Homo sapiens: one gene and its partner. The protein of the gene in region 1 interacts with the protein of each later gene in a pairwise test. Each region holds a gene or a part of one and is shown on either strand. Other genes may lie near its edges.

Evidence for each region.
Region 2: the proteins of HSD11B1 (region 1) and GKAP1 interact in a two-hybrid assay, tested with the Homo sapiens proteins (one large-scale study listed by BioGRID and IntAct).

What each region holds. Positions count from the first base shown.
Region 1 is NC_000001.11:209,728,558-209,732,177, reverse strand, and holds part of HSD11B1 (11-beta-hydroxysteroid dehydrogenase 1), read right to left. Parts: intron 1-3,620. UniProt on the Homo sapiens protein: Controls the reversible conversion of biologically active glucocorticoids such as cortisone to cortisol, and 11-dehydrocorticosterone to corticosterone in the presence of NADP(H).
Region 2 is NC_000009.12:83,804,099-83,807,926, forward strand, and holds part of GKAP1 (G kinase-anchoring protein 1), read right to left. Parts: intron 2,463-3,828; 5' UTR 2,420-2,462; coding exon 2,204-2,419; intron 1-2,203. UniProt on the Homo sapiens protein: Regulates insulin-dependent IRS1 tyrosine phosphorylation in adipocytes by modulating the availability of IRS1 to IR tyrosine kinase. Its association with IRS1 is required for insulin-induced translocation of SLC2A4 to the cell membrane.

The DNA of each region.
Region 1 (3,620 bases):
TGGGCTACAAAAGAGCCATGTAATTCCACAGCTGCTAACTCTTGCATCTCTGAACCAAGTGCTGGGGATCCAAGAGTTTGACTAGTTATCTCTGCCAACTTGGTGACCTGTTGGCAATGGAAAGGGTATGTTTTACTTTCCTTACAAAGGTATTAAAAAACTGCCTGTCCTGGCCAGGTGTGGTGGCTCACACCTATAATCTCAGCACTTTGGGAGGCCGAGGTGGGCAGATCACTTGAAGTCAGGAGTTCGAGACCAGCCTGACTAACATGATGAAACCCCATCTCTACTAAAAATACAAACATTAGCTGGGCACATGCCTGTAGTCCTAGCTACTCGGGAGGCTGAGGCAGGTGAATCGCTTGAATTTGGGAGGCGGAAGTTGCAGTGAGCTGAGATCGCGCCACCGCACTGCAGCTTGGGTGACAGAGAGAGACTCCATCTCAAAAAAACAAAAAACAGAATCCTGTCTTTGCTTTTCTACCCAAAGCCGCTTTTTAAAAAAAATGTTCACCAGACTGGTTAATTCTCACTCAAGTTGTTTGGAGGATATGTGGACATATGCCTAATAGGATAAACTATTATTAATACCCTTTTTAGGAGGGGAGAGTAGAAGTGACCTGAGACCCTATAGTCTTTACCGAGCATTGTTATAGCAACTACTTTAAAATCCATTGTCTGCTAATTCCAGAATTTGGGTAATTTTAAGATTGATCTTTATTGATTTCCTTTCCTCCTAAGTATGGGTCATATTTACTATTCTTGTATGGGTGTTAATTTTGTATTGTATCCTGGATATCGTGAATGATACATTGCAGGGTACCTGGATTCTGTCACATTCCTCCAAAGAGTGTTGATTTTTTTTTTTAAGTGGCCAGTTAACTTGGGTGAAACTCTGTCTCTTGTAATAAGTATCAGCTGCAATCTCTGTTCAATTATTTGAATCTTAACTTGGCTGCTTGGTTTCTGCATTGCCCATGCATTGTTCAGAGAACAACTAGAGATTTGGACAGAGCTTATGTATAGGATTCAGTGTTTCTCCACTGTGACTCTCCTTTCCAGCATAACCCCTTTGCATTCCAGCTATTACGGTAACCCCAACCTCTTCCTTCTAGCTATTCATGTTGGCAAGATGGCAGGTTTCTATCCCAGATATGGCACTGATTGGGGTTGCCCTTAGGCCTAAAGCTATACAATTGAGAAACTCGCCTACTGTCATTTCCTTCTTCCAAGTGTCAATAACCCTCCATTTTCTATCTGCTCTTGGTTAATCTCCAGTGCTTTCAATGGTTGTCGTCGATATTTTGTCAAAAGCTTATAGTTGTAATCTGGGGAAGGATGGTCTTTCGGGTGCCACTCTTGCAGTTATCGGAATTGGAATTTCTATATGTTTCAAATATAATATGTTGTATGTCAAACCAATGAAGAAAGGATGGGTTATTTAATAAAGATGCTGAGAAAGGTGGTTAACTTATTGGAAAAAATTAACTCTTTGTTTTATGTCATATAGCAAAAAATATTCTAGATGGAAAATGATAGTAAATAGTGTTATCTACCCAATATCCATTCCTCCTTCTTTAATAATAGAGTCTGATTTTGTTCAGGACAGCAACGTAATCATTTTAAAATGCTCATCTCCCTGAGATTTTCTTGCCGTAATAGGCCATGCAACGTAATAGTTCTGGTCAATGAGAAATCTAACAGATGAGGTTTCTAGGAAAGATATTGATTTCCAATAAATTAGATGGATTCAGGTGGCATGCAACTTTTACATTTTGCCCTTCTCCTTTCCTCCTAAGGAACCTCAGATATGATGGCTAGAATTGTAGCAGTCAGTTTGTGAACTTTAGGAAAAGCTAATGTTAATTATAGTGGAACAGAAATGTGGAATGACCTTGGATTCTTGAAGACGTCATGTAAGTCCACCAAAAGCAGCCCTAAACTATTACCTGAGAAGAAGGAATCTCTCTTTGTTAAGTTGCAGTGAGGTTTTTGACTTCTTTCTTTTCAACTGGGATACCCTTTATTTCTTTCTCTTGTCTAATTGCTCTGGCTAGAACTTCCAGTACTACGTTGAATAAAAGTGGTGGAAGTTGGCATCATTGTCTTGGTCCAAATCTTGGTGGAAAGGCTTTCAATTTTGTCCAGTTCAGTAAGATATTAGCTATAGGTTTGTCATGTATGGCCTTTATGATGTTGAGGTATATCCCTTCTATACCCAATTTGTTGAGGGTTTTTATTATGAAGGGATATTGCATTTTACCAAATGCTTTTTCATCATCTACTGAAATGATTATATATTTTTGCCTTTGATTCTGTTGATGTGATGTATCACATTTATTGATTTGCTTATGTTGAACCATCCTTGCATCTTGAAGATGAATCCTACTTGATCATAATGAATGATCCTTTAAAATGTTGTTGAGCTCTGTTTGCTAGTATTTTGTTGAGGATTTTTGCATCTGTGTTCATCAGGGATATTGGCCTGTGGTTTTCTCTTTTTTGTTGTATCTTTAGTTTTGGTTTCAATGTTGGGACACATCCTTAAAAGGAGAAGCCAGTCTCTCCTTCCCAATCCTTTGTCCTTCTTGGTGTCTGAAGGTGGATGTAATGGCTATGGCTCCAGACCTATCTTGGACCATGAGGTAGAAGCCACGTGTTGAGGATGGCAAAACATTTAGATAGTTTAGATAGAAGGAAGGAACCTGGGTGACCATGGAGCTGCCATACTATACTGGCCCTATACTGCCTACCTTCAGACCTGATTTAAATTTTAACTTACTTGTGTGTGTGTGTGTGTGTGTGTGTGTGTGTTTTCCGAGGCAGAGTCTTGCTCTGTTGCCCAGGCTGGAGTGCAATGGCATGATCTCGGCTCACTGCAACTTTTGCCTCCCAAGTTCTAGTGATTCTTCTGCCTCAACCTCCCGAGTAGCTGGGATTACAGGTTTGAGCTACCAAACCTGGCTAATTTTTGTATTTTTAGTAGAAACAGGGTTTCACCATGTTGGCCAGGCTGGTCTTGAACTCCTGATCTCAAGTGATCCACCTGCCTCGGCCTCCCAAAGTATTGGGATTACAGGCATGAGCCACTATGCCTGGCCTAAATGCTAACTTATTGAATCCACTATTATTTTAGGTTTTCTGTATCTGAGAGCTGGACTTACTTCTTATTGATAGTTATCCTCACTTCTATGCAGCCCATGTGCCAAAAGAAAGCTGACATCATTCCTAACTGCAGGTATGAGCTTATGTAATCTATTTTATCCCATTCTTCTTACTCATGATTGATACAGGAATGGCCATGTGGCTCATTTTGGACCAATGAGATTTGAAGAAAATTTTGTTGGAGTGTCTCAAAAAGTTATTGTTTTTCTGGAAGAGTTTCTGAGAGTAGCAATCCTCTTTTTCTTCCAACACATTTTTTGTGCATTGATATGGGGGCTGGAATTGCTGCAGCTATCTCATTGTCAGCCTGAGGATGAAGCCACACATGGAAGAGAGCAGAGCCAAGAGAATCACGGGGACACTGAGCTTCAGCCAAGTCAACTGTGAAGCCTGCCCTACATCTGGACTTCCAGTTATGTCAATAATTTTCCTTATTGTTTGAGACAAAAATAGAT
Region 2 (3,828 bases), on another chromosome or scaffold:
GCCGCCCCGTCCGGGAGGGAGGTAGGGGGGTCAGCCCCCCGCACGGCCAGCCGCCCCGTCTGGGAGGTGAGGGGCGCCTCTGCCCAGCCGCCCCTACTGGGAAGTGAGGAGCCCCTCTGCCGGGCCAGCCACCCCGTCCGGGAGGGAGGTGGGGGGCTCAGCCCCCCGCCCGGCCAGCCGCCCCATCTGGGAGGGAGGTGGGGGGGTCAGCACCCCGCCCGGCCAGCCGCCCCATCCGGGAGGGAGGTGGGGGGGTCAGCCCCCCGCCCGGCCAGCCGCCCCGTCCGGGAGGGAGGTGGGGGGGGTCAGCCCCCCGCCCGGCCAGCCACCCCGTCCGGGAGGTGAGGGGCGCCTCTGCCCGGCCACCCCTACTGGGAAGTGAGGAGCCCCTCTGCTCGGCCAGCCGCCCCGTCCGGGAGGGAGGTGGGGGGGTCAGCCCCCCGCCCAGCCAGACGCCCCGTCCGGGAGGGAGGTGGGGGGGTCAGCCCCCGGCCCGGCCAGCCGCCCCATCCAGGAGGGAGGTGGGGGGGGTCAGCCCCCCGCCTGGCCAGCCGCCCCGTCCGGGAGGGAGGTGGGGGGGTCCAGCCCCCCGCCCGGCCAGCCGCCCCGTACGGGAGGGAGGTGGGGTCAGCCCCCCGCCGGGCCAGCCACCCCGTCCGGGAGGTGAGGGGCGCCTCTGCCCGGCCGCCCCTACTGGGAAGTGAGGAGCCCCTCTGCCTGGTCAGCCGCCCCGTCCGGGAGGGAGGTGGGGGGTCAGCCCCCCGCCCGGCCAGCCGCCCCGTCCGGGAGGTGAGGGGCGCCTCTGCCCGGCCGCCCCTACTGGGAAGTGAGGAGCCCCTCTGCCCGGCCACCACCCCATCTGGGAGGTGTACCCAACAGCTCATTGAGAACGGGCCGGGATGACAATGGCAGTTTTGTGGAATAGAAGGGGGGGAAAGGTGGGGAAAAGATTGAGAAATCGGATGGTTGCCGTGTCTGTGTAGAAAGAAGTAGACATGGGAGACTTTTCATTTTGTTCTGTACTAAGATAAATTCTTCTGCCTTGGGATCCTGTTGATCGGTGACCTTACCCCCAACCCTGTGCTCTCTGAAACGTGCTGTGTCCACTCAGGGTTAAATGGATTAAGGGCGGTGCAAGATGTGCTTTGTTAAACAGATGCTTGAAGGCAGCATGCTCGTTAAGAATCATCACCACTCCCTAATCTCAAGTACCCAGGGACACAAACACTGCGGAAGGCCGCAGGGTCCTCTGCCTAGGAAAACCAGAAACCTTTGTTCACTTGTTTATCTGCCGACCTTCCCTCCACTATTGTCCTATGACCCTGCCAAATCCCCCTCTGCGAGAAACACCCAAGAATGATCAATAAAAAAAATAAAAAATAAAAAAAAAACCATGTAATTAAATATTGTAAACTGTGGATTCATTTAAAATAACAGAGATCTGTATTTACCAATATGGAAAACTGCTCATGGTTAATTTTTTTTAAAAGCCAGTTATAAAACAGTCTATTATATAACCCCATTTTCATTTAAGTATTAGAAGGATATATACATACATGTATATATTCATATAAATTTATATATGTGTACAGAAAACACATACCAAAATATTAATTGGTTATATCTCTGGTTATATCTATAAATGACCTGTTTCCTTTTAAGACTTTCCTATTTTAAACTTTATGCAATGAACACACAAACTTCCAGTCAGAAAAAACGTACTTTAAAAATGTTCAGGCAGGGTGTGGTGGCTCACGCCTGTAATCCCAACCCTTTGGGAGGCTGAGGCAAGCAGATTGCTTGAGCCCAGGTGTTCAAGACCAGCCTATGCAACATGGCAAAACTCCATCTCTACAAAAAACGCAAAAATTAGCCAGGCATGGCAGTGTGTGCCTGTGGTCCCAGCTACTTGGGAGGCTAAGGTGTGAGGCTACCTTGAGCCTAGGAGGTTGAGGCTACAGTGAACTGTGATCATCCCACTGCACTCCAGCCTAGGTGACAGAGTGAGACCCTGTCTCAAAAAAAAAAAAAGATCATTACATTTGATTTTAAATATACACAAATTCACATCCATTCATTGAAGTAATATTTTCAGAGTACCTGTGGAACAGGTACTATGGATACACAGGGGAACAAGATAGTATCTGTTCTCAGGATGATTACCATCTACTGGGAAAGCAGACAACACAGATAATTGTGTTACCTCATTTGCTTCACTCTGTTGCTGTTCCTTCTTTTTTCTTCTTTTCTCTCTTTTTTTCTCATTTGTAGTTGACTTGCTTCCTAAAGTTTGAGACTTTCCAGTATTTCGACCTTTACCTTTTCCAGGTTCAGAATCAGAGCCACTGCCACTATCCACTTGTAACAGGGCAAAACGAGAAGCGGTGGTGGGAACAGAACTAAGTACTGCTGAGGCCATCGTAAAGATTTTTCTTTTAAAATACTTCTGTCAAGAATAATTTCTGTGGGGAGGCAGAAGAGTAGGCAGATGGGTAAACAAACAGAGTAAAATCTGTTGTAGATTCTAAAACAACCATATGTAGATAAAATAAATTTCTTCTGACACTGGATTTAGTAAATTTGGATTAATACCCACAGCACTATTAGCAATAACATACTTTTATATTTAAGTAAACGATATAACATTTTACAATAGAAAAATATGAGATTTCACAGATATAATGTACTCATTTTTCCATGTATACTTTAAAAATTCACAGTCTTCCTCTCTCAATCATTCTGAAATATATACATAGTTATAGAGAACATCCTAAATCAATATGGTTTACAGTGGAAAAGAATATCATTTTTTCATGATACACAAAAAAAAGACCTTTAGTCCAACTACATGTTAACTCCCAACTTCCAATACAAGAAAAAAAGGAGTAAAGACGGAATACCACTCTTATCATATATAAAATACTACCATAGGTTTGATTCTAGAGACTGTGATTTAGAACTGACAGCAAAAATAAAGAGCTTAAATTCTCTCAACCAAAGGAAACTTTTCAAAATGCCTTCCACATTATGTTTAGTTCACTAGTTTCCATGCAAGCATAGGTCAGTGTAGCTTCATTCCATGTGCTGTCAGCTTTTCCACAACCGTTTAGACTTAGAAGGGATCTTAAAAGTCCCCTAGTAGTTCCTAATCCAAATCCTTTAGTTATACAGCTAAGGTAAGTGGAGTTTAAGTTGGTTATGTGACTTCCCTTAGTTCTTTCTGGAAGTTAGCGGCTGAGTCTCCACCTGGACCTAGATTTGTTGAACCTTATTCTGAAAGTCCAAATTAAGAAGCCCTGTAACAACCAGAAGACTAAGTGCTCTTCTAATTAAAAAAGACAAAGATTGTCTTAACAGAATGGCAACTCAGAAATTTGTATTTTGAAATGTTTCAGGTAAAAACTGAATATTCAATTTGAAAAAATTAAGATGAACACTCCAAGTAGCCAGCACAAAGGTTAACAAAACGTTAACTGACTCCTATGCTTCTCTCCAATTGCATTCCCCCACTGCACCAGCCAGAGATAACAAGTATCCTGATTTTTGTATAACTTACTCCTTTGCTTTTCTTTATAGTTCTATTCTATGCCTTGATTCACAGTGATCATATTTGAATGAACTGCTGTCATTTCCACAATATCCCACTGGTTACATATATATTTCTTACTATATTCACATTATCACACAGGTCCACCCTATTCATTGCAGGAAAGGGCTATGTAAAGGTGAATACTAAGAAGTAAGGATCATTAAGATCCATTCTGAAAGCTAACCACACATTATCGTTTGTATGTTTTCAGGAGGGAAGAAAAATGAGAAGTATGTATT